4 separate regions of the Homo sapiens genome follow, and all the other regions are linked to region 3. The links come from fine-mapping of genetic effects on gene expression. A gene starts in region 3. Each other region holds a variant in brackets. All regions are shown on one strand. Distances are between the middles of the regions.

Evidence for each region. PIP is the estimated chance that this variant, and not a neighbour inherited with it, causes the effect.
Region 1: its variant is the best candidate, but not a certain one, in a credible set for the expression of RAD50 in whole blood (INTERVAL, PIP 0.89).
Region 2: its variant is the best candidate, but not a certain one, in a credible set for the expression of RAD50 in prefrontal cortex (ROSMAP, PIP 0.61).
Region 4: its variant is the best candidate, but not a certain one, in a credible set for the expression of RAD50 in blood mononuclear cells (TOPMed, PIP 0.65).

The regions. Positions count from the first base shown.
Region 1 is chr5:132,588,278-132,593,277 of GRCh38, forward strand. It overlaps RAD50 (RAD50 double strand break repair protein), which reads left to right. Exons shown (of 25, transcript NM_005732.4): 8 at 410-603; 9 at 1,354-1,560; 10 at 2,947-3,129; 11 at 3,600-3,757. Among named protein-coding and RNA genes, the nearest start is that of RAD50, 34 kb to the left of the region's middle. The variant A/G (reference allele first, on the strand shown) is at 2,459.
Region 2 is chr5:132,210,360-132,218,244 of GRCh38, forward strand. It overlaps P4HA2 (prolyl 4-hydroxylase subunit alpha 2), which reads right to left. Exons shown (of 15, transcript NM_001017974.2): 3 at 7,393-7,489; 4 at 6,838-6,989; 5 at 3,557-3,694; 6 at 1-164. It overlaps MIR6830 (microRNA 6830), which reads right to left and starts at 7,559; the gene lies at 7,490-7,559. The variant T/TAAAAAA (reference allele first, on the strand shown) is at 5,491.
Region 3 is chr5:132,554,296-132,559,295 of GRCh38, forward strand. It overlaps RAD50 (RAD50 double strand break repair protein), which reads left to right and starts at 2,682. Exons shown (of 25, transcript NM_005732.4): 1 at 2,682-3,158; 2 at 4,989-5,000. The coding sequence starts at 3,030. It also overlaps a transcript of IL5 not described here. RefSeq lists an enhancer at 2,305-2,965.
Region 4 is chr5:132,639,542-132,647,646 of GRCh38, forward strand. It overlaps RAD50 (RAD50 double strand break repair protein), which reads left to right. Exons shown (of 25, transcript NM_005732.4): 24 at 1,131-1,264; 25 at 2,637-6,808. The coding sequence ends at 2,823. It overlaps TH2LCRR (T helper type 2 locus control region associated RNA), which reads right to left. Exons shown (of 3, transcript NR_132125.1): 2 at 2,657-2,741. Among named protein-coding and RNA genes, the nearest start is that of TH2LCRR, 13 kb to the right of the region's middle. RefSeq lists enhancers at 78-157, 1,259-2,654 and a silencer at 1,821-1,970. The variant C/G (reference allele first, on the strand shown) is at 3,107.

The sequences.
Region 1 (5,000 bases), 34 kb after region 3:
GCCAGGGATACTGGGTAAGAGAAAGGACAGGAGGGAGCTAGGTATGGTTATGATTAGAACAAAAAGAGAGTCCTTGTAGTATTGGAACTGTTCAGTATCTTGACTGCCATAGTGGATATATGAACCGACACAGGTGATAAAATTATATAGAACTTAATATACACACATCCACATGCTCAGGGGTACAAATAAAATTGGGGAAATTTGAATAAGATTGATGAATTATATCAATATCAGTATTCTGGTTGTGATATTTTACTGCAGTTTTGCAAAATGTTATCATTGGGAGAAACTGGGCAAAATGTACAAGAGACACACTGCATTATTTTTTATAACTCGTGAATCTGCAGCTATCTCAACTTTTTAAGCACCAGTTGAAAAAAAAATTATGAGATTTTTTTTTTAAAAGGTCGTCTACAGCTGCAAGCAGATCGCCATCAAGAACATATCCGAGCTAGAGATTCATTAATTCAGTCTTTGGCAACACAGCTAGAATTGGATGGCTTTGAGCGTGGACCATTCAGTGAAAGACAGATTAAAAATTTTCACAAACTTGTGAGAGAGAGACAAGAAGGGGAAGCAAAAACTGCCAACCAACTGATGGCAAGTATTTTGAAATACAGTATTTGTTATTTTGTTTGCATCATATTCTCTACTTGAATTGTTTTAATTTTTGGTTGGACTCCATTTTGGCATATTTTTCTATTAGTGTTAGGATAAAATCTGCTACAAGGCAGAAAAACCTTTATTGAAGCAAATGTTCTTAAGTGTATAAAGATAAAAATATGAAGAAAATGTAAACCTACATTTTTTATTTGGTTTTAAGTAAAAATTTTTAAAAACTAATTGCAGAGAAAACATTTGCTCACAGTTAATGATTATCTCTGGGTAATGGTTTTGATTGTTTTTAAAATACAGTCTTGAACCACATGTTTTGGTCAGTGATAGACCACATATTTGACATTGGTCCCATAAAATTATAATACTGTATTTTACTGTATGTTTTCTGTGTTTAGATATGTTTAGATACATAAATACTTATCATCATGTTACAGTTGCCAAAGTATTCAGTACAGTAATATGCTGTATAGGTTTGTAGCCCATAAACAATAGGCTATACCATATAGTCTATGTGTGTATTAAACTATACCATGTAGGCTTATGTAAATACATTCTGATGTTCACACAATGATAAAATTGCCTAATGATGCATTTCTTGGAATATATCCCTGCTGAGCAACACACGACTGTACTTTTTTGTATTTTCTTCAGTGTACATATATTCCTTTTGCAATTAAAAAACTTAAATTGTTTAGTAAATTATTAATGCTCATTCTTTACATATGCATTTAGAATGACTTTGCAGAAAAAGAGACTCTGAAACAAAAACAGATAGATGAGATAAGAGATAAGAAAACTGGACTGGGAAGAATAATTGAGTTAAAATCAGAAATCCTAAGTAAGAAGCAGAATGAGCTGAAAAATGTGAAGTATGAATTACAGCAGTTGGAAGGATCTTCAGACAGGATTCTTGAACTGGACCAGGAGCTCATAAAAGCTGTAAGATATTGTTTGAATAATCTAATAATTTTAAGATATAATACTTTTAGAAGTATTTTGTCTATTTTTGATCCTAAGATTATAGCATTTTAATAAAAACATCAACTTTGTCTTATTCTCATGTAAAATGAATTCATCTGAATATCTTGATCTTCTGACTCTTTGGTTCTACAACCCGATAGCCTGAAAATTAGAATCACATAGGGAGCTTTTTAAAGATACTGTACTCAGACCTTAAAGCTTCAGACCTTCCAAATCAAAATCTCTGAGAATGGGGCATAGAAATGTACATTCAAAACACAACAAAACTGGCTAATTCTTATGAGCACCTTGATTAAGAACACTTACCAGGCCGGGTGCGGTGTCTCACACCTGTAATCCCAGCACTTTGGGAAGCCAAGGCAGGCAGATAACGTGAGGTCAGGAGTTCAAGACCTGTCCAGCCAACATGGTGAAACCCCGTCTCTACTAAAAATACAAAAATTAGCTGGGCGTGGTGGCGTGTGCCTGTAATCCCAGCTACTTGGGAGGCCAGGGCAGGAGAATCGCTTGAACCTGGGAGGCAGAGGTTGCAGTGAGCCAAGATTGCGCCACTGCTCTCCAGCCTGGGTGACAGAGTGGGACTCCATCTCAAAAAAAAGAAAAAGAACACTTGCCAAAGTTTTAAAAAAGCAAGTATTTTTCCTCTAGGTCACACACGTTGTAATTCTAGATGATTTTTGCTGTATTATTACTTTTTCTGTGTTAAAAACTTTCTTAGCCAATCTTTTCAGGTATTTCCATATTTTCTTTCTTGCTTCTAGTCTGTCCTCCTTCTTCACATCTCCATTACCAAAGTAAGCATTCTAAAGCATGGCAAACTTCTTAAAGCCCATCTTGATAATTTATGTAAACATTT[A/G]TTTTTGCTCCATAACTCACCATTGTAGCATACATTTTTGTCAGTTTAGCACTTCATCAGTGTTGTCTTGTTGGGGTGGGGAGATACTTGGTCAGGGACCACATCACACTATTTTTATAGTTTCTACATACCAGGCAATATAGTGAATTACATGGGGACATAATAAATATTTAATTGTTGACTGAGGACTCACTAATCTGTGTACTTAGACACATGTCTCCTAATTTTACAGTAATTCTCACATTTCTTTCCTGTTTGACCCTTCTAGGTTTATTTACTAATTCTCTACCATTATAACATAGTAAGGTCACTTTAATAAGATATACCTTAGAGCATATATAGTGCCTTATGTTTTTTTCTCTTGTTGGATGCAAACAGTAATATTTGGAACATTCTGAGGAGTAGTTAATTTCTAATACACTTTGTCATTATTTTAATTCTTGCACAAAATATATAACACCTTTGCATTTGTATGAATTATTGACTAGGAACGTGAGTTAAGCAAGGCTGAGAAAAACAGCAATGTAGAAACCTTAAAAATGGAAGTAATAAGTCTCCAAAATGAAAAAGCAGACTTAGACAGGACCCTGCGTAAACTTGACCAGGAGATGGAGCAGTTAAACCATCATACAACAACACGTACCCAAATGGAGATGCTGACCAAAGACAAAGTATGATTTTTCTTTTTGTTCTAATTATACTGTCTGGTACTTAAAATAGCCTACCTTGCACTCATAAGTCATAGACTATAAGGTATTAAGTTGGTATTGACTATATTTTAGAGGCTAAGTGAGCTTAGTACTCTATATAATAGACTTTCAAGCTTAAAAGTTATTGTTTAATTACAAAAAGTTAATACAGAAATGTATATATATGTATATACACACATGCACATTACTGTTAACTTTTAACATACACAAATTTTAAAATTTTATATTGTTCGACTTGGTACTCCACTCTTAAGGCTTAGAAAGACCATCCCCACTTGAAGACTTTAAGAACTTTAAGAAATTTTATATTTTATTTTCATATTTTTATAGTTTTAAGCTTAGAACTTTAGTCAGTCTAGAATTTATTTTTGTTCTTGATATAATGTGGAGATATAGACTTTATTTTTAAAAGATTTTTTTTTTACCTATAGGCTGACAAAGATGAACAAATCAGAAAAATAAAATCTAGGCACAGTGATGAATTAACCTCACTGTTGGGATATTTTCCCAACAAAAAACAGCTTGAAGACTGGCTACATAGTAAATCAAAAGAAATTAATCAGACCAGGGACAGACTTGCCAAATTGAAGTAAGTTGCAACATTTGGAGATGTAATAGAAATCTCTTATTTCATGCTTACCTGTTTAATTGTTTTAAAATAATTTATTGTCATGAAATGGTATGTTATATTGATAAACTTTAGTTCTTACATACAAGGAGACTTCAGAAAGTTCATGGAAAAATGGAATTAAAAGATAAAAATTTTAAATAAACTGTATTTCTCAACATAAGCTCCATCAAGTTCAAGACTCTTCTGAGCAGTGATACCAGCAATTTAGTTCAGTCCTAAAGAACTGAGGGTCCTGGGAATTTAACCATGTCAGTGTAGTCTTTTTTACATTGCTAGCATAAAAATGGGTGCCCTTTAAAGATTTTTTTAAGATTAAGAAACTAGAAGACAGGAGGAGCCAAATCAGGACTGTAAGGTGGATGCCTAATGATTTCCCATCGAAACTCTTGCAAATGGCCCTTGTTTGATGAGAGGAATGAGCAGGAACATTGTTGTGGTGGAAAAGGACTCTCTGGTGAAGCTTTCCTGGGCATTTTTCTGCTAATGCTTTGGCTAGCTTTCTCAGAACACTCTCATAATAAGCAGTTGTTACCTTTCTTCGGCCCTCCAGAAAGTCAGCAAGCAAAATGCCTTGAGCATCCCCAACAACTGTTGCCATGACCTTTGCTCTTATCTGGTCTGCTTTTGCTTTGACTGGACCACTTCCACCACTTGTTAGCCATTGCTTTCATTGTGCTTTGTCTTCAGGATTGTACTGGTAAAGCCACATTCCATCACCTCCTGTTACAATTCTTTGAAGAAATGCTTTAGGAACTTGATCCCACTTATTGAGGAAGTTCTGCTGTTGTCTGCAGCTGATCTGGAAGCAGTGATTTTGGGCATCCATCAAGTAGAACGTTTACTCAACTTTAATTTTTCAGTCAGAATTGTGTAACCTGAATCAATTGAGGTGTCTATGGTGTTGGCTATTGTTTCTGCTGTTAATCATTGATCTTCTTCAGTTAGGGCATGAAGAAGATGATTTTTTTTCCTCACAAATTGATGTGAACAGTCTGTCACTGTGGGCTTCATCTTTAATATCGTCTCATCCCTTCTTAAACTGAGTTATCCATTTGTAAACTGCTGATTTGTTTGGGGCATTGATCTCATAAACTTGTTGTAAAGTATCAATGATTTCACCATTCTTCCACCCACACTTCACCATAAATTTGATACTTGTTCTTGCTTCAGTTTAATTGGGGCTCTTTTCAAACTGATGTCT
Region 2 (7,885 bases), 340 kb before region 3:
GTCCAGCACCTGTGACTTGGTTGTGGTGGCCTCCTCCCCGGCATCAAGCTGCTTTAGCACCTGCTCCATCCACAACACCGTATGATAATAGTCCCCTTCATTGTAGGCCGAGCGGCCCATCCCAAAGCAGTCATCCACACTCAGCATTGCCTGGTACTTGGTTCCTACAGCAGGGGAAGTAAATTGTCAGGCTCCAAAGAGCCTCTGGATTAGGGAAAGAGATTCCCACTTCAAGGAAAGCCTGAGCCACTGGATAGGGGGCATCACCAAGCAGAACTCCATCGGACATTTAGACTGCATATCCTAAAGGGCCACTGACACAGTGAGCACAGACAGATGGCCCAGCCCTGCCCTGGACTGGGGTTCACAGCCACCTCTTAGCCTCAGATTCCCCATCTCCCAAGTGGGAAGGGGCCTTTTTAGGGGGAGCCCCAGAAACCCACCAGGAAGCATTGTTGAGGACAGTGGGAAGGTCCTGTGGACCACAGAGAAGAAGATGTCTGGTGGGCAGTTTGCCATATGAGTCTAGAGGATGGAAAAATTAGCTGAATATAAAAAACATAAATTTAGGTGGCAACCAAGCCATGGGTGAGGAAAATAGCTTGCAGGAACTCTGAGGAAAGAATGGAGAAGATGACTAAGGCCAGAGCTCCAGGGAGCACCTACCCAGAAAGAACAGACAATGAATAACCCTGAGAATGAACTAAAGATAGGAGAAACAGAGGGAGCGGGAGTGGTGTGAGAGACACCAAGGGAGGCCAAGAGCCAAGGTTGCAGTGCCAGCTTTGGCTGTTAAGTGGCAGGGACCTTGCTGAGTATCAGTTCAGTGGGTCTTATGACCAAAGGTCATCTGCTGTAGAGGGAGTGCTGGAAAGTGACCATGAAGATAGTTTCAAGCCAATATGAAGAAGCAGCTATAGGGAGATGCAGGATTTAGGGTGAGCTCAAGATGGGAAAGACTATGTGTGTGGTTCCTCAGAGAATAATGAGAAAGCAGATACCATGGAGGGGAAGTGGGGGCTGTGACTCTCCCTGGAAAGCAAGGAAGACTCCCCACAGCCCCATTAACAGCAACCTGGGCATGGCTGACACAAAAGAACTCAGAGAAGGCTCTTTCTGCCTGGAATGAAACCACTACACAGTAGGCTAAATGCTTCAGAGACCAGGGTCTGCTAACCCCGGTGGCTCAGGAACCAATAACGAGGAATAGGAAGTTGGGGACAGTAAACACAAGATGAAGTCCCTAGGTAGGCCAGGGACTGGGGGGCTCCTGGAGCCCCTTTTCCTTCTCCACAGGTCTCCTCTGGCTCTGCAGGCCCAGGAACCTACATTGCTGGGGCAGAGTAACATAGCTGACTGAGCTGGGGCTCTGGAGCTGAACTAAACTAGGTTTGTGTTGGCCTCACTAGGGCGCCAACCAGCTGTGTGACTATAGACAAGTTACCATATCTAAGTCTCAGTCCCCTTATCTCTAAATAAAGATAATATCATCAATTTTAAAGAGCTTGTGGCAAGAATTCAATAAGATGACATATGAAGATGTCTCCTATGCTCCCCAGGATGCTAATGACCAGTAGCTATTATCAACATGTCTCCCAGATGCCAAGAATGCTAAGAATGGCTCCCTGGCACTCAGCATCCTCCCCAGAGCCAACTCGAATGTCTACTCCCTGGAGAGCATTTGGGAGAGTGACAGCTGAGCTGAGTGCTGATAGGCAATCAGACATGGAGTAGCCTAGCTGACATGGGTAAAGGTATTCCTATAGAGGGGTTGAGACAAAAGAGCTGAGTGATAGGGAAAGCTGAGTACAATGGGCAAGGAAGCCAGGAAAATGGAGTCATGCAGGACCCCAAAGACCACACACAGGAGGAGTTTGGGTTTAGCTTTGGAAATTAAGCACAGTAATCAGGAACTCATGTGAACAAATGTGTGCTTAAGACCACATGGAGGATGGTCTTAAGCAGTAAGCTGGAGGTAGGAGACAAGTCAGAATGGTATTTTGATAATCAAATTGAGAAAAAAGTAGCTGTGAGGCTGGAGTCAGGGGATAAGCACGGAAGACATGAGAGAAGGAGGTAGAATCCATAGGCCTTAGGCTTCTGGCTTAGGCAGCCAGAGGATGGAGGTCCTTTTTGCTGAGATAGAAGGATGAGGGGGAAGGTAAAGTGTTTACAAGGAGATGAGGATTTCAGTTCAGGACACATGAAGTTCGAGAAGTCCATGGGACATTCAAGTACAGATGTCCCAAAGGCATCCGTCTACACTGGTTAGAAGCTCGGGAGACAAGCCTTGGCAAGAAACACAGATCTGGATGTCATCCACCTCAGGTGATGGAAATGGCTGTGCTCACCTGGGGAAGGTGCTCAGGGAGAAGATGAGGTAAGGATGGAGTCCTAGGGAGTAATTCCTTTCTGCCCCATAACCCTATTCAGGACACTCATGGGTTTGCTGAGTGAACGTGAGAGGTCAACGCCAGGGTATGGTTCCCTCCTCCAAGCAACCAATCTCAAGGCTACAGAGTGAACAGATCTTGCAGGTGCCCTGAACTGCCCTCTCTCTAATGGAGTCTAAAGGGGGCAGCTGAGGTTCTGGAGCTGGAATAAGCTGGGTCTGCATGAGCCTCACACAGTGAATCGCTGGGGTTACTTGTCTCCAGCAGCCCTCAAAACATCTTCTTATAAACACTAACACTGGGAAGTCAGTGGGAGAGGGGCCACTTGAGAGAAAATGACCAGAGAGGCTAAAAGAGAAGCAGATATCAGTATGCCAGAATTCAAAGGAGGAGAGAACATCACAAAGAATGAGGCAATCTATCTGTCAAATGCTGCTGGGAAGTTAAAGAACATTATGTGTGAACCTTGTTCGCTGGGTTTACCAGCCAAGCGGCCACTGATGACCTTGTAAGAACAGCATCAGTGACAGTGGGGAAAAAGGCCAGATACTGTGAGTTCAGGAGTATATGGGAACCAGGAAAATGGACAGAGTGTAGATTACTCTATCCAGTAGCCTAACCAGGAGGGGAGAAGAGATGAATCAGCAGCAAAGACTCGAAAGACTCTCAGATACCGAGGGAGGCAAGTGTTAAGATGAGCAAGAATAGAGCCTATATGGGAGCTCAAGGGTAGAACCCAGAGAGGTGGAGACAGAATGTATAGGAGCAGAGACTGTAACTAAGAGGACTCAAGACAGGGGGATAGTAAGCCCAGATCAGCCTTAGATGAAAAGACATTGGAGGGTGGGAGACAAGAAGCAGGTCTGAATGCAGATCTGTGTGGTGCTCTGGGGACAGACGTGGAGGGGGTTCCTGAGCAGCAACTTTGGCTTTCTCTGAGATGCAAGAGGAGAGGGCCTTGGCTAATACATGGAGGGAGGTGGCAGGGCAGGGGCTGAGGGAGAAACCTGTCATGGGAGAGGGAGTCCAGCACAAACTGGTGAGCCAAGAGGTGCACCAGAGGTGCACCCGAGGTTAAAGGCCACAAGTTGGTGGTGGCTCCAACCTGTCCCGCCACTAAAGAGACACATGCGGGACAGGCAACGCCTGGAGTGGTGAGTTACCTGGAAGTTCCCCTCTGGAAATTGTGCCTGGGTCCAGCCTGTATGTGTCCTGAAGTCTCATCAGGGCTTTGGCAGCTCCTATCTCGTCCTCATCAGTGGGGAAGAACTGCCGCTGCACAGAGAGGTTGGCGATAAAACCTTCCAAATGAGAGTCAGAACAAGAGATTACCCTTGATCCAGGGGCAGAATTCCACTTGGGACCAGAGAGGCAGCCACAAAGAGGGTCTCTGGCTAGTGAAATTTCCCCGCCCCCTCCCTCAAAGGCTGTTGCCCCCTTCCACCAGGAAGTTGTCCCTGATGACTCCAGTCTATGGGGACTTTTCCTTTCTTACTCCTCACCATACCTACTGCCTGTGTTGCTCTTTGGAACTAAGTAGAAGCAGCCCCCCATATTGGTTAATATTTAGGAGTCCAGAAGTCTTGGCTCCAAATCATTCAGTCAGAGCTGGTGGAGACAGAAGAAACAGAGGATAGAGAGGGTAACTGAGAAGAGCACGGGAGAGGACTCAGGAAGAACTGTCAACCACTCAGTGGAAAATAAATCCCATGGAAAACCTTGATCCAGGGTAATTGGGCTAGTCAGGTAAACACAGACTTCCAGCACACATTTCAAGTTGAGGAGTCCAAGGGACAATGACAGTTAACTAATGAAGCCGAGCTGGCCACTCATTACTGACCACTGGCACTTATCATCCAGAAAGGTGATGATGAAAGTCCTGGAAGTCATCCCCCTCCCCCTAGGTTGACAGCTGAAGGACCACCTAGACAGGCCAAGGACCAAGGTGGGGTTGCACCAACCCAGCAAGGTCCGTCCCCTAAGAGACCACGGTGGGCCTGTTCTCCTCTGTACTCCCACCACTCAGACCTTCAATGAGTTCAGGGCATGGGCTCTCCAGTTATGGTGCTCAAGACCACAGCCTGAAGCGTGGGAGAGCTTTTGACCACAGAAGTACTCCAAGGAGGCTTTTCTGGGACTCCAAGCCCTAGCTGTAAAGTAAGATGTGTACCTCCTACAATCCCAGGTGGGAGCCAAGCCTTCCCAGGCTGACTTAGGGCCTTCAATTCTGCCTCTAAGCTGAGAAGTGAGAGGGGAACAACAAGGCCATTCCTTCCCCAACCTCTTCCCAAGAGTAGCTGTATCCACTGCCACCTATGACTTCAGACCTAAACATCCACTTCAGCCATAACTGGGGACAGGGACCAAGAAGCTGTAACCCTGCCTTCCTTGTCTTCATAGCTACATGGTCAGGGACTCTAAAGAGTTTAGAATCTGGTGGGGTGGGAGTAGGGGAACATGCTGCCAGGAAAAGCCACACTGTCAGCATGCCCTGCTCGTTTCAGGGGCAAGAACTCAAAGTCAGAGATGAAAACAACCAATTATTCTCTGGGCCTGCCCTATCTCCTTCCAGGTAATCATAAGGTTTTCCAAAGGAACCAGATGATGGTGGGAGTGTAGGGTGTGGAGAACAAGATTGGAGAGAGGAGGTCATCTGGGTAGGCTTAGTCTCCTGCCGTGCAGGCAGAACAGCCTGTCCCGAGCTGCAGGCCCAGGCGGAGAGGCGGGAGTCTGGGAAAGGCAGCCGTGGTTTCTGGAGGCAGTGAGCTCACTGGGCACAGCTCCAGCCTGGCTGAGCTCACCAATCCCTCTCCAGAGGCCACCCTGCCCCCAGGCCCAACCCAGTCTGGCCACATGGGCTAAAATGTCTCAGCCAGAGAGACAGCTAGTCTGAAGTTAATCAGCACTCACAGCTCAGGGAAAAGAGGCAGTGAAGAGCTGGGTACAATGGCACTGTGCCTATAGTCCCAGCTACTCAGGAGGCTGAGGCAGGAGGATCACGTGAGGCCAGGAGTCCAAGGTTGCAGTGTGCTACAATCGCACCTGTGAATAGCCACTGCACTCCAGTCTAGGCTAATATAGTGAGACCCTGTCCCTT[T/TAAAAAA]AAAAAAAAAAAAAAAAAAAAAAAAAAAGGCAGCGGGCATGGTGGCTCACACCTGTAATCCCAGCACTTTGGGAGGTGGAGATGGGTGGATCACGAGGTCAAGAGATCAAGAACATCCTAGCCAACATGGTGAAACCCTGTCTCTACTAAAAATACCAAAAAAAAATTAGCTGGGCATGGTGGCATGTGCCTATAGTCCCAGCTAGTCAGGAGGCTGAGGCAGAAGAATTGCTTGAACCCGGAGGCAGAGGTTGCAGTGAGCCGAGATCCCGCCACTACACTCCAGCCTGGTGACAGAGTGAGACTCAGTCTCAAAAAAAAAAAAAAAAAAAAAAAAAGTCAGTGAGTCCAGGGGACTAAACCCAGGGCTAGGAGTTAGGAGAGCCCACCTCCAGGCCCACCGTACCATCTCTTCTTATTGACAGAAAAGTATTAGGGCATAAAAAGTATTATCACAATAAAAGCACCAAGTATAGTTTAAAGCTTTTAAAAAGTTCACACTCTCATCGGTAATATCACTTCTAGGAACTTACCCTAAAAAAGTAATCAGAAGTATACACCAAGAAATATGTAAAAAGGTGCTGATAATTCAGAAAAAATCCCATATCCAATGACTTGACCCATTTGACAGTATTATCAGTATGACAGATTATCACCATCTGACAGGTAATCACCATCCAGCCATTAAAATCATGTTGCAGAAGAACATTGAATGGCATATAAAGAAGCTGAGAAATTCACAGAATTTTTTCTTCTGTCACAAATCTACCAACAGATATGCTTTGTTTGTAAAACATATGAATAGGAATGAATTTAGATCAGACCTATGCTCCCCAACTTGCCCTGGCCCCACCATCCAGCCCACTTGACACTTGTAAATTCATTGTCCCTCCAAGCAACTGAGTTTGCATGCCCTGGTATGTATGTATAGTTCCATTTTTTAAATGTATATGCATAGGTAGAAAAACTACAATTTTAATAATGCTCACCACTGGGCAACTGGATTAAGAATTATAATTCTCTTGTTTTTGTGTTTTCCGACTTTTCTATAAACATGTATCACTAAAGTATAATTGGAAAAATGTCATTAGCAAAAAATAAGAAAAGACAGACACTAAAAAAAAGACGCTAAAAAAAGAACTGAACATCATTACATGTTAAAAACCAAGGCCAGCCAACTTCCAGGTCCCCACAGAGAAGGGAGAGAGCCATGAGACCAGCAGGGTCCTGTTTCCACAATGTACTTGCCCACCAACACCCAGACCCAAGACAGGCTCAGACACAACAACCCAGGCATGAGCACACAAACATATGGGCTCACTCAAGCACCTGCTCACCGTCCCTCACCTGCAGCTGAGTCCTGCAGGACAAGGTCCTCCAGCGCAGGCCAGTCTGTGTTTAGCCGCTTCACCAGTTTGTAGGCATTCACAGGGTGAGCCAGGTAGCCCTCAGCATCAGCAGCTGACTTGCTAGTCAAGGCTTCCATTTTGTTGGCCCAGCTGTGGAACCAGAGGAAAAGGAAGACTAATGCGTCCACCCACATAGGTCTTGACCTGTGACAATTTTCCTAGTGAGAATTCCCTGGTGCCAGGTTCTGGGGCCCTTTTCATCAAGAGGCAATGAAAAATGAATACAGTAACTCCCCACAGATACTTCTAGCCCCTTAATCTAGATAACAGCTGGGACCCCCAATGTAAGGGAAAAGGTCTTAAATAGAAAATAAACAGTGACTCCTTAGCCCATGTACTTAGCTCCTCTCAAGCACTGGCATGAAGTAACCAGGCCAGCCCCACATCACCCTCTCAAAGGTTTCCTCTTATAGGCACCCTGGATGGCTTCCTTGTTCCTTGAGGGGCAGAAGGGAAGGAAGGCCAACTAAGGATGGTTGGGGACTTAGGACACCTCTTAATCTTGGAAAGCTTGGCTTCCTCCACAAGGATGTACTCTTTCAGAGACTGCACCAGCTCTTTCTCTGCATAAATCAGGTCAGTCATGTGCCCTGCAAGGGAGAGAAGAAAGACACCAGTGAGAAACAGATGAGGGATGTCCAGCCTCCTTCCTTGGGGCACAGAATACCAGCACAGAAGCAAGTCCCCTGGGATAAGAACATGTCAGCTCTCTGAGGATTATGGGGACTTGGAGTTAAAGGGGGCCTAGGCACTCATGGGGCTCTATCTCGCAACTTCAGGAAGAAAGAGGCAGAGGCACCAAGGGGATGTTTGAGATAAGTGCACTGGATGTCACTCAAGAAGCAGCCCTAAATCTCATTCTCCGACTGTTACATAGCTGGTCATGACACTGGGGCATGGATATCCTGGGGGCTCACCACAGGATAAAAAGCTCTGAACTTTAGGTCGGAAGGATAGGAAAAGCTTGATCCTCAGGATACAAAGGA
Region 3 (5,000 bases):
GGTGGAGGTTGCAGTGAGCCAAGATCGCACCATTGCACTCCAGTCTGGGTGACAGAGTGAGACTCCATCTCAAAAAAAAAAAAAAAAAAAAAGTCTCCACTTGAATAGTCAATTATTCAAAGATACACAAATGGCCAATAAACACATGAAATGATGCTACTAATAATTATTGAAATGCAAATCAAAATTACAATGAGGTATCACTTCACACTCATCAGGATGGCTACCATAAAAAAACATAAAATAACAAGTGTTGGCAAGCATATGTAGAAATTGAAACCCTTATGCACTATTGGTGGGAATGTCAAATGGTACAACCACTGTGGAAAACAGTATGGCAGTTCCTCAAATAATTAAAAATTGAATTACTGTATGATCTAATAATTCCACTTCTGGGTATATACCCAAAAGAATTGAAAGCAGGGTCCAGAAGTGACATTTGTACACCAATATATATAGCCACACTATTCACAATAGCTAAAACGTGAAAGTAACCCAAATGTCCATCAATAGATGGATAAGCAAAATGTGATGTGTATTGTAATGAATCTTATTCAACCTTAAAAACGACCTGAATTCTGATATATGCTACAGTGGTCCCCAACCTTTTTGGCACCAGGGACCAGTCTCACGGAAGACAGTTTTTCCACAGACAGGAGTGGGGTGATGGTTTTGGGATGAAACTGTTCGACCTCACATCATCAGGCATTAGATTCTCATAAGGAATGGGCAAGCTAGATCCCTTGCATGGGGCAACCTACATCTTTCTCATGGGCAGTTCAAAATACGGTTTGTGCTCCTATGAGAATCTAATGCCCCCACTGATCTGAGGCCCAGCTCGGGTGGTAATGTTCACTCACCTGCTGCTCACCTCCTACTGTGCCACCAGGTTCCTAACAGGCCAGGTATGCATACTGGTCAGTGACCCAGGGGTTGGGGACTGAGCTGCAACATGGATGAACCTTGAGGACATTATAAGTGAAATGAGCCAGTCACAAAAAGATAAATACTGTATGATTCCACTTATATGAGGTACTTAGTAAAAAATTATAGAGACAGTAAGTAGAATGTTGGTTGTCAGGGTTTGGAGGATGTGGGGAGGAAAGGGTTATTGTTTAATGGGTAGTTTGTTTTGCAAAGTGAAAAGATTTGTAGAGGTTGAAAGGTGGTGACGGTTGTACGTGAGTATACTTAACACCACTGAAATGTACACTTGGTTAAGATAGTAAATTCTTTTTGAGACGGAGTCTCGCTCTGTTGCCCAGGCTGGAGTGCAGTGGTGCGGTCTCGGCTCACTGCAAGCTCCGCCTCCCGGGTTCATGCCATACTCCTGCCTCAGCCTCCTGAGTAGCTGGGACCATCGGCGCCTGCCACCATGCCCGGCTAATTTTTTGTGTTTTCAGTAGAGACGGGGTTTCACCGTGTTAGCCAGGATGGTCTTCATTTCCTGACCTCGTGATCCACCCGTCTCGGCCTCCCAAAGTGCTGGGATTACAGGCGTGAGCCACCGCGCCTGGCCAAGACAGTAAATTTTATGTGTATTTTACAATTTTTAAAATAAAAAAAGGTCTTTCGTCTTTTCCCATTGTTTTATTACATTTGCTTTGCCAAGTAAGACATTCCTATATAATTTTAATGTTTTGTTCCATTAGTTATTTTAACTATTTTGTAATAACTGACACTTTCCGGTTTTTTTTAACCTGGTACAGCAAGAGACTATTTCTCACTGGTCTTCCCCACTTGCATCCTTTGGCACATACATTTATGTATTAGGTTCTGTAAATTATTTGCTTGGGATTGTATGACTGGAGAAACATTTCCTACATTTTTCCAAGGCAGGCAGAGGCAAATTATACCACTACAGTAATTCCAAATTTGTGTTTCATTTAAATGTCCTCCACTATTGTTTCAGTAATTTTTATGTATGTTTCTCTAGGCCCTTAAATGTGATATCCCTCCATTAAGTTTGTTTCCAAGAAAGCAATATTCTCAGTTACTTCTGAGACAGGTAACTTCTCTTTCCCTTATTTTTAAAGATATCTATTGCTGGGAGCACTGATCGGAATGGATTACCTCTACATTCTTCATATTTGCAGACTGCTTTTAGTTTTAGTTCCCAGACTTTTGGTCTTAAAGACGCCTTTACACTAAAAAATTACGGGGGACCTCAAAGAGCGTGTACGTGAGTTATAATTATCAACATTTACTCAATTAGAAATTAAAATTGGTATTTCTAAGCGCAAGAATACACATGCGCACATTCCATTAACCGCCACTGCAATGGCGTCATCACATGTTATGTGATCACTGGAAATTACTACACGAACGTTAGAGAGAGAATGAGAATGAAAAGGAAAATAGTTTTGACACGAACTGACCCCGCTTCCTGGGTCTCCAATCCACCCCACCACTACCCCCATTCCAGGAGTCCCAGGATCAAGCTTTGGGAAGCGCCATCCGTCACAGGTCTTGGTCTCCCCTTCCAAAAGTCAGTGCCTCTCCAGGCTGCCCATCCCCAGCAAAGATCCGGAAGTCCGCTGCCCCTGGCAACAGCACCCAGCACCTAGCCCTCTGCTTCGCCGTACCGCACCCGGAAGTCGGAGCTGCGCACGCACCGCGGGACTCTGATTTCCCGGCGTGCCCCAGGAGAGCGGCGTGGACGCGTGCGGGCCTAGAGGCCCACGTGATCCGCAGGGCGGCCGAGGCAGGAAGCTGTGAGTGCGCGGTTGCGGGGTCGCATTGTGGCTACGGCTTTGCGTCCCCGGCGGGCAGCCCCAGGCTGGTCCCCGCCTCCGCTCTCCCCACCGGCGGGGAAAGCAGCTGGTGTGGGAGGAAAGGCTCCATCCCCCGCCCCCTCTCTCCCGCTGTTGGCTGGCAGGATCTTTTGGCAGTCCTGTGGCCTCGCTCCCCGCCCGGATCCTCCTGACCCTGAGATTCGCGGGTCTCACGTCCCGTGCACGCCTTGCTTCGGCCTCAGTTAAGCCTTTGTGGGCTCCAGGTCCCTGGTGAGATTAGAAACGTTTGCAAACATGTCCCGGATCGAAAAGATGAGCATTCTGGGCGTGCGGAGTTTTGGAATAGAGGACAAAGATAAGCAAATTATCACTTTCTTCAGCCCCCTTACAATTTTGGTTGGACCCAATGGGGCGGGAAAGACGGTAAGTCTTCAGTAGCCGCCTTCAGTTTACAGGTCGCTACATCTTTCGGAGAATAAAATGGGAAGTTGAGAACTCTCCTTAGGAGCAGAAGCGTCCCTAGGGCTCCACAGGTGTAGGCCCTTAAAGTGCCTTAGGGTGTGGCCTGCAGGCTACAGCGACCTTAGGAGTTTGCCTGAAGCAGTCTCGGAAGGATGTCCGGACCTGGCCTGGGGACAAGGTTTACTTAAGAATCCCACGATACCGGGAGCTGTCGCCGCTCACTCAGAGTTCAGTTCCCACTGGATGCCCTTTGGTCTGTATTGATGTTTTTAACGCTGTCTCCTTGCTTTCAAAGCATAGCATTCACTTCCCAGTAGTTGTCCCATACAAGAATTCCTTTAAAAGTTATAAAATGATACATACATGACTAAAGAGTTTCCAAGTATGCCAACTGTCCAGACATAATACATGGAAAATAAATAAATTCAAAATGTAACTGATGTAGTGGGGCTTAACTTGGAAAACTTCTCTTCTTAAAACTCAGTCAAAAATTTAACGTTGGTGCACGACTGACTTTTTTTTTTTTTTAAAGCCGTGGGAATATTTATAAATTTGAATGGAAAGAATAACCAAGAGGCATTCTGGTCAGGAATAGTGGCTTAAGAAAAAGCAAGACGATGTCAGTATAGCAGGGAGAAGAGTCTAAAGGAAGGATTTGTGAAGAGTGTAGAAAGAGAGAAGGTTGAGAATTGAATGCCAAACTTGTTTACTTTTGTTTTTGTAAAAATGTTATTTGTTGAATGCTTGTTATGTACTTAGGATTGTACTAAATACTAGCAGAAGGGAGAGTAGTACTGTATAGTGTTTATGAGGACTGGCTGCCTCAATACAGCTTTTTCGCTTCATTTATTAGTTGTCTGATTGTTTGCGAGTGACCTCACTGCTCTGTGCCTTAGTTTTCTCATTTATAAAATGGAGATTAAAAATAGTTTCTACAGCTGGGCACGGTGGCTCACGCCTGTAATCCCAGCACTTTGGGAGGCCGAGGCGGGTGGATCACCTGAGGTCAGGAGTTCGAGACCAGCCTGGCCAACGTGGCGAAACCCCATCTCTAATAAAAATACAAAAATTAGCCAGGCGTGGTGGCGCATGCCTGTAATCCTAGCTACTGGGGAGGCCGAGGCGGGAGAATCGCTTGAACCGGGGAGGTGGAGGTTGCAGTGAGCCGAGATCACGCCATTGCACTACACCAGCCTGGGTGACAGAGGGAGACTCTCTCCCCCCACAAAAAAAAAAAAAAAAAAAAAAAAGTTTCTACAGGCTGGGCATGGTGGCTGACGACTGTAATCCGAGCCGTTTGGGAGGCTGAGGCTGGGGGATTGCTTGAGCCCAGGAGGTCGAGAGGTCGAGGCTGCAGTAAGCCATGATCATGCAGCTGCACTGCAGCCTGGGCAGCAGAATGAGACCCTGTCTCTTAAACAAAAAGTTCCTACAGCCTGGAGTTAATGTGAGAATTAAATAAATGTATGTAAGAGTGCTTAGTACAATACAGTACTTAACTGTTAGCCATTCTTATTATTAACTTAAATTAGTTTAAAGGGTTTCAGTTGAAAATAATTATTTTTTTCCCAAGTAACAATTCTTCATATTAGGATAACTTCTTAGTTATATAGCATTTCTGTGAACTTACAGCATTAACACTTAATCATATTTTTATTACAGGTTTTATAATGTCAGATTTTATCTTTTATAGTTTCCATGATAAATAATATTTTTGTAATGAATTCATATTTTATGGTAAACTTCTGTGGTTCTCTTATAACGAAATAATGTAATTTTCTATTTCTTTAGACCATCATTGAA
Region 4 (8,105 bases), 87 kb after region 3:
AATACAGAGTTTGAAACATGGTCTCTTTGAATTAAAAATACTTTCAAAAATATCTTGAGGAAAAAGATTTTTTGTAGCTATTCTGAGTTATGAAAATTAATTAGCAATAATTGTCTCCTTGGTGTGAGGGGAGAGAACAAATAATGGAGGTGGGCCTCCAGCCTACCTAACACTGGCTTTTGCTGAGGCTCTAGCAGCCAGCCAGGGGCTCTGCATGTGAGTGGGTGGTGGTAGAGTTGACAGCAGTTTGGATTCAAAGACAGGAAGGAAATGCCTGTCCCTCACAGGGCCAAGCTGTGGCCCTGTCTTCTGGCTTGCCTAGGCATTAAAGAAAAGACATAAACTATTCTAAAATTACCAACTCACTGATGTGTGCGCACCCACCCACAAACTGAGGGGGAAAGGGGACTTACAGCTCACACCAGAGTAGTTTATACTTCCTAGAATAGCCCTACTCTCTCAATTCTGTGTGTCTTGTATCCTCAGATGGTTTCAGTGGGTCTGAGGGTTTTAGTATTAGGTTTCTAGTAACCACGAAAATGCCTAACAGTTCCAGTTACTTGGATTTTCTACAGGTAAGCTTAACTGAAACCACATTTCTATACTCCTGATACTTTGACCTAGGATTTTCTTTTTTATTCTCTCAGTCTCAGGATTATACACAAGAATATGGAAATTTAAAGGTAGCAGAGAAAAAGTGAGAGGCTCTAGAAAACGTGTCGAAGTTTTCTAACAGATCCCATTATCAGGCAAATAGCCAGGTCAAGAATTTTTAAGGTTGCTCATCTTACAGGATTATTAAAATTACAGATAAATGGCATTGTCTCTGTTTCTAGCCTTTGGTCTCAAGTTGGTTGTAGCTGATGTAATTTTTTATGTGAGAGCATCAGCGTTGTTCTGAGCATTTTGTTTTGTGGTGAATGATAGGCTGAGATCATGCAGGTTCTCCTTCTGGAGGACATAAGAATCTGGTCCCAGTGCTGGGCTCTCCCAGAGGGCAGTGCTTTACCTAACAGTGAACCTGTGACGTTTCCCACTTTTCCCTGCTGAAAAGATCATGTCAGGACTGCTTGCCTGCCATGAGATGAGAAGGTCTGTGCTGGGCTTCTCACATAGGGGCTTTTTTCCAGGTATTAGCCTCACTCATCATTCGCCTGGCCCTGGCTGAAACGTTCTGCCTCAACTGTGGCATCATTGCCTTGGATGAGCCAACAACAAATCTTGACCGAGAAAACATTGAATCTCTTGCACATGCTCTGGTTGAGTAAGTATCTCTTGCACATGCTCTGGTTGAGTAAGTATCTCACATTTGGGGACAGGTTGTGATAGTTCTTCAAAACCAAGAGAGTTCTGTGATGAAAACGTTCTCTAGCTGTGTTCCCCACTTCTTGGGGAAGCCAGTTGGTGCCAGGCCCTGGGCTTTACCTTTTGATAGTAATTCTTCAGATCCCTCCTAAAGGAACTAGATGGTGAACAGCAGCCCCAGACACATCCTGCAGCTCCCCAAGTGTGTTCACAGGGAGAGAGTCACTGTGAGGGGTTCCTGGCCTGGTTTTCCTGTAAACCTACCAGAGGAACCCACATGTCATGCACAGCAATTAGCATGCCCTGCTAAGACATCTGCAGGTAGTGGTAGTGGGTTTAGGACTGTCTCCCCAGCTTTCCACATGTGTCAGAGAACTGTGAGGAATGACAGAGCTCTTACTCAAAAAGCTTATTTGAGATTAGGTAAAGTCCAGTGAGGGTAAAATTGCACACCTTTTACCACATTCACCTGGGGTCAGTGTAGACGCCAAGGTTGTCAAGCAGCTCTTGCATAAGGACTATGCTGGCAGAGAAAAAGGCAGTTTCCCTGAGGTCAAAGGAGGTGTTTCAGGCACTCCTGGCTCCAGACAGTCCCTTTCTGGCAGAGAGGGCCAGAAGGAGAGCTCAGCAGCGCAGGGCCACCTTTCTGCAGCCATCATCACAAGTAAGGGCGAGTGCTTTTGAAACCTCAAATGCATCCAGCTCCAGGAAGGGGATAAGTGGCTAGCTAAAAGAAAAAGTCTTTCAGGTTTCAGTCACATTGCTGGTTACCTCAGCAAAATGTTCCCAGAACACCCACTCAGGTCCCTGTGTGTCATAGTAATGATGCATCTAGTGACTGGTGGTGGCAGAATTCTAAGTAGACCCAGCTCTTAAGAAAGCAGTGTTATTCCCCTTACCTGTAGTTTGTCTTTATTACTTTTAAATTTTTCTTCCAGAGAAAAGTAGTAACAGGTCAGGAAAATCCCAGGCGAAGGAGTAAGCCTTCTATAGTTGAACAGTTTGGATATTAAGGAAAACTCAATAAAATATTTATACCTGCTTTAGTGAGAACTTCTGATCTGGAAGAAACTAGTTCTTGTATTCCTGTGAGTCCCTAAGCCAGACCTAAGTGAGGAGTCAGGCCATGTGTCCCTACTGTCTGGAGAGGAGAAGAGACTCCTGCCTGGCTGGCCTGAAGGCCTGGGGCCACCCCTCCACTTCCTGCAGGGTAGCTGGGGCCCTGACACACAGCACAAGTTCATGTGTCTGACAAGGTTTGCGGTGACTTTTCAAATCAAAGAAGGGGTTATGCTCTTTACTAATAATATGTTCTGAATATATTGTTGCAGGATAATAAAAAGTCGCTCACAGCAGCGTAACTTCCAGCTTCTGGTAATCACTCATGATGAAGATTTTGTGGAGCTTTTAGGACGTTCTGAATATGTGGAGAAATTCTACAGGATTAAAAAGAACATCGATCAGTGCTCAGAGATTGTGAAATGCAGTGTTAGCTCCCTGGGATTCAATGTTCATTAAAAATATCCAAGATTTAAATGCCATAGAAATGTAGGTCCTCAGAAAGTGTATAATAAGAAACTTATTTCTCATATCAACTTAGTCAATAAGAAAATATATTCTTTCAAAGGAACATTGTGTCTAGGATTTTGGATGTTGAGAGGTTCTAAAATCATGAAACTTGTTTCACTGAAAATTGGACAGATTGCCTGTTTCTGATTTGCTGCTCTTCATCCCATTCCAGGCAGCCTCTGTCAGGCCTTCAGGGTTCAGCAGTACAGCCGAGACTCGACTCTGTGCCTCC[C/G]TCCCCAGTGCAAATGCATGCTTCTTCTCAAAGCACTGTTGAGAAGGAGATAATTACTGCCTTGAAAATTTATGGTTTTGGTATTTTTTTAAATCATAGTTAAATGTTACCTCTGAATTTACTTCCTTGCATGTGGTTTGAAAAACTGAGTATTAATATCTGAGGATGACCAGAAATGGTGAGATGTATGTTTGGCTCTGCTTTTAACTTTATAAATCCAGTGACCTCTCTCTCTGGGACTTGGTTTCCCCAACTAAAATTTGAAGTAGTTGAATGGGGTCTCAAAGTTTGACAGGAACCTTAAGTAATCATCTAAGTCAGTACCCACCACCTTCTTCTCCTACATATCCCTTCCAGATGGTCATCCAGACTCAGAGCTCTCTCTACAGAGAGGAAATTCTCCACTGTGCACACCCACCTTTGGAAAGCTCTGACCACTTGAGGCCTGATCTGCCCATCGTGAAGAAGCCTGTAACACTCCTCTGCGTCTATCCTGTGTAGCATACTGGCTTCACCATCAATCCTGATTCCTCTCTAAGTGGGCATTGCCATGTGGAAGGCAAGCCAGGCTCACTCACAGAGTCAAGGCCTGCTCCCTGTAGGGTCCAACCAGACCTGGAAGAACAGGCCTCTCCATTTGCTCTTCAGATGCCACTTCTAAGAAAAGCCTAATCACAGTTTTTCCTGGAATTGCCAGCTGACATCTTGAATCCTTCCATTCCACACAGAATGCAACCAAGTCACACGCTTTTGAATTATGCTTTGTAGAGTTTTGTCATTCAGAGTCAGCCAGGACCATACCGGGTCTTGATTCAGTCACATGGCATGGTTTTGTGCCATCTGTAGCTATAATGAGCATGTTTGCCTAGACAGCTTTTCTCAACTGGGTCCAGAAGAGAATTAAGCCCTAAGGTCCTAAGGCATCTATCTGTGCTAGGTTAAATGGTTGGCCCCCAAAGATAGACAGGTCCTGATTTCTAGAACCCGTGACTGTTACTTTATACAGCAAAGGAAACTTTGCAGATGTGATTAAAGCTAAGGACCTTAAGACAGAGTATCCTGGGGGTGGTGGTGGGGTGGGGGGGGGTCCTAAATGTAATCACGAGTAAGATTAAGAGCAAATCAATTCTAGTCATATATTAAACATCCACAATAACCAAGATATTTTTATCCCAAGAATGCAAGATTTCAGAAAATGAAAAATCTGTTGATAAATCCATCACTATAATAAAACCGAAGGTGAAAAAAATTCTGAAAAAATTCTAGCAGCTATATTTGATAAAATTCAACATCTCCTAGCTTTAGCAAACTCACAGTTTTGCAAATAATATTTTCTTAATGTTATCTGTTGCTAAATCAAAATTAAACAGTCATCTTAACTGCAAAATAAAACATTTCTCAGTAAATATTAAAGCCAGTTACCTTCTATCAACATGTTAATGAAAGTGCTAGTTGTTGCAGCAAAGAATAACAAAGGCAATACACGATCAATATAGGCAGTGAAACAAAAGTATCATTTGCAAGTTAAAACAGACTTCCCAATTTTAAATCTGGTTTCCCCCTGAATATGTGGCATCCTTGGCAGCACTTCTGAGAGTGGCTGCTTTCATTCCAAGAAGCCCATGGGTTTGGAGGTGGGATAGGTGCCTTTCTGGCTTCTCATTGCTGCTTCTAGATCAGTCTCCAAATATCCCCCTTCCCCACATTGGAATGAATAGCCATCACAGCATGGATGGAGGTTAGAATGAGCCAGACTGCCTGGGCTCAAATCCTAGCACACCACTCACTAGCTGGGGACCTTGAGCAAGTTATTTGTCCTGTTTTCTGTTTCCTTATATGTAAAAGTGGGTAAAATGGTACATATTTTGTAGGGTTGTTATGAAGATTGAATGACATTATTTACAAACTGCTTAGAACTGCTTGCCACCTACTAAATACTGTGTAAGTGTTCAAGAAAAAGCTGTCTTCATTTCACTCTTGTTGCAGTTATCTTTCATTCCCAGCTTGGTCACTCCCTCTTATTTGTTGAAGAGTTTAGCTCCCGGTTCAGTGTCACCCCATTACTAATAATCATTGCTGATTTCAATATCCAAGTGATGGTCTAATACAACTCCTTGGCCTCTCAGTCTTTTTTATTTTTTGAGGTGGAGTCTTGCTCTGTCACCCAGGCTGGAGTGCAATGGCACCATCTCAGCTCACTGCAACCTCTGCCTCCCTGATACAAGCAATCCTCCTGCCTCAGCCTCCCAAGTAGCTAGGATTACAGGCATGTACCACCACACCAGGCTAATTTTTGTATTTTAGTAGAGACAGGGTTTCGCCTTGTTGGCCAGGCTGGTCTTGAACGTCTGGCCTCAAGTGATCTGCCTACCTTGGCCTCCCTCAGCCCCTTTTTGTTTCCTCCAGTGAGAAGATACTCAGTTCTATGGTCTTATTCTAGAGCCCCGTCCTTTTAATAACAATAACTGCACCCCTCCAAAATCTCAGTTTTAAGCATCTCACTCTCCAATAACCCCATGGTGTCTACAATTTTCCTGTGGTCCTCAACCCCAGCAATTCTTTGACCCCACTGAGATTTCAATCCATTGATTCTATGGCTTTTTCACAGGTTGTTTCCCTGATGCCTGTACTTCTCTCCTTATTCAACTTAAATTCCATGGCTCATCATTATGTCACCCTCCACTGCATTGTACTCAAACTGTCCCGACAATCCCCAGCCCTACTGGAATCCAGCTCTGCCTCCTCCCTGCAACACCTGCACATCCCGTTTCCTTTGCTGTTTCCTCCTCATTTCCCTGGCCCCTCAATGTCACAGGTTTTAGTACTCAGAGTCTGCACCTCTTTTCTTCTCTGTGCTCACTTATTTGGTGATCTCATCCAGTCTCATAGCTTTAAATTATCTTAGTTTGGGTTCTCCCAGAAGCAGAGCGTAAAACAATGCTTCACGTGAAAGTAATCAGTAGGAAATTGGGGAAATTGTGTATGAAAGAGAAAGCAGCCAATGAAAAGTTTACTATTAAGCCAGCTACGGTAAGTGGGCAATTAGAGTTTGGTGCCCCAGGGAGACTCTGGGGAGTTTGGCAAAATATATACCTCAGAATTATCCCACCTAAGGGGCAAGAGACCTGGAGTATTTATATAACAACTTGCCAGGGTTACTGAGTGAAGGCTATTCTAGCACATGTTAGTTACTGGCTTGCCATGTGTACCGACACAGCTGCTTTCCACAGTTTAAAAAGAAAGTCTGAGCAACATAGTGACATCCCATCTTTACATAAAATTTTTAAAAAATTAGCAAGGCATGGTGGTGCACACCTGTAGTCTCAGCTACTTGGCTGAGATAGGATCCCTGGAGTCTGAGGGTTCAAGGCTGCAGTGAGCTGTGATTTGTGCCACTGCACCCCAGCCTGGGTGGGTGGCAGAGTGAGACCCTGTCTAAAAAGACAAAAAAAAAAAAAAAAAAAAAGCAGCAGCAGCTGAAAGTTGGCAGGAGCACACTGGCAGTTCCTAGGATCATAGGATATAGGCAGGGCACTGACCACTCCTACAACCACCATCTATACACTGATAACTCATAAATGTTTGTGTCCAATCCAGATCTCTCCTAAATGCTTGACTGATATATTCAGCTGCCTGTGGATAACTGGGCATCTATCTGCACTTGAATATCTAATAAACGTCTAAAACTTAAAATGACCAAAACCAGTCTTTCTCCCAGAACTTGAATCTCTTCTGTTAATGGCAACTCCATTATTCCAATTGCTCAGGCAAAAATTGGCATTATCCTTGATTCTTTATCTTACATCTTATATCTAATTCGTCAGTTTAATACTATGGGTTCAATTTTCAAAACATCCGGAATCTGACCATGCCTCACCATTTAAACCAGCAGTCCCCAACCATTTTGGCACCAGAGACCGATTTAGTGGAAGACAATTTTTCCATGGACGGGTGGGGTGAGGGGGATGGTTTCGGGATGAAACTGTTCCATCTCAGATCATCAGGCATTAGTCAGATTCTCATAAGGAGCACGCAACCTAGATCCCTCACGTGCAAATTCACAATAGAGTTTGCACTCCCGTGAGAATCTAATGCCACCACCAATCTGATAGGAGGTAGAGCTCAGGCGGTAATGCTCCCTCACCTGTCACTCACCTCCTGTTGTGCGACTCTGTTCCTAACAGGCTGAGGACAGGTAATGGTCTGCAGCCCGGGGGTTGGGGACCCCTGATCTAAACCATCATTGCTCTGGTCCAAGCCACTGCCATCTCTAACCTGAATAATCTGAGTAACCACGTAACTGCTCCCACTGATTTGGGGCCTGCTCCCTGTAGTTCTCAACACAGCAGCCAGTGATCTTTTTAAAAAGTAACTCAAGAAAATGTGTTTCTCACAGGGGTGTGGGTTAGCAATTTCGAAATTTTTATGTACATACTAAAGTCAAACAAATACATACCTGTGTTGTAGATAATACGAACTGAGTTTCTCACTGTTGGAAAAAGGTGTTTGCATATCAGGAAAGGAGGCCATAAAAAGAACCCCTTGGTGTTGATTGAATCCAAAGGATCTGTACAAATTTATAATTTTAATATCTAAAGGATTTCTACTTCCATAAGGGTGGAGTAAAAGCCATCCAAAATCTGCTTCTTCATAAAAGCAATAAGACTGGCAAAAATGTCAAAATCAACTTTTTCAGAACTTTGGAAATTAACTAATGGATAGCGACAAACTGAGGTGTGTTTATTAAAGGAAAACAGCTGAATCTCAGAGCAGAAAGTGGCATTTTAAGTTGCCCTAATCCCATGCCCTTCTCTCTTAATCCATGGTAACTTGAAAACCAACAGCCCTCTTAGTATCTGTGAAAATCAGCAACCTAGTAGCCACTGGAGGAGACAGAATAGATTTGGAGGTCCCCCAGATCTCCACTACTAGAGAACTGCCTCTATTTGTCTTGTCTGGCAACTCACTGAAAAGCTCCATTTTCAGGACCTATCTTTAT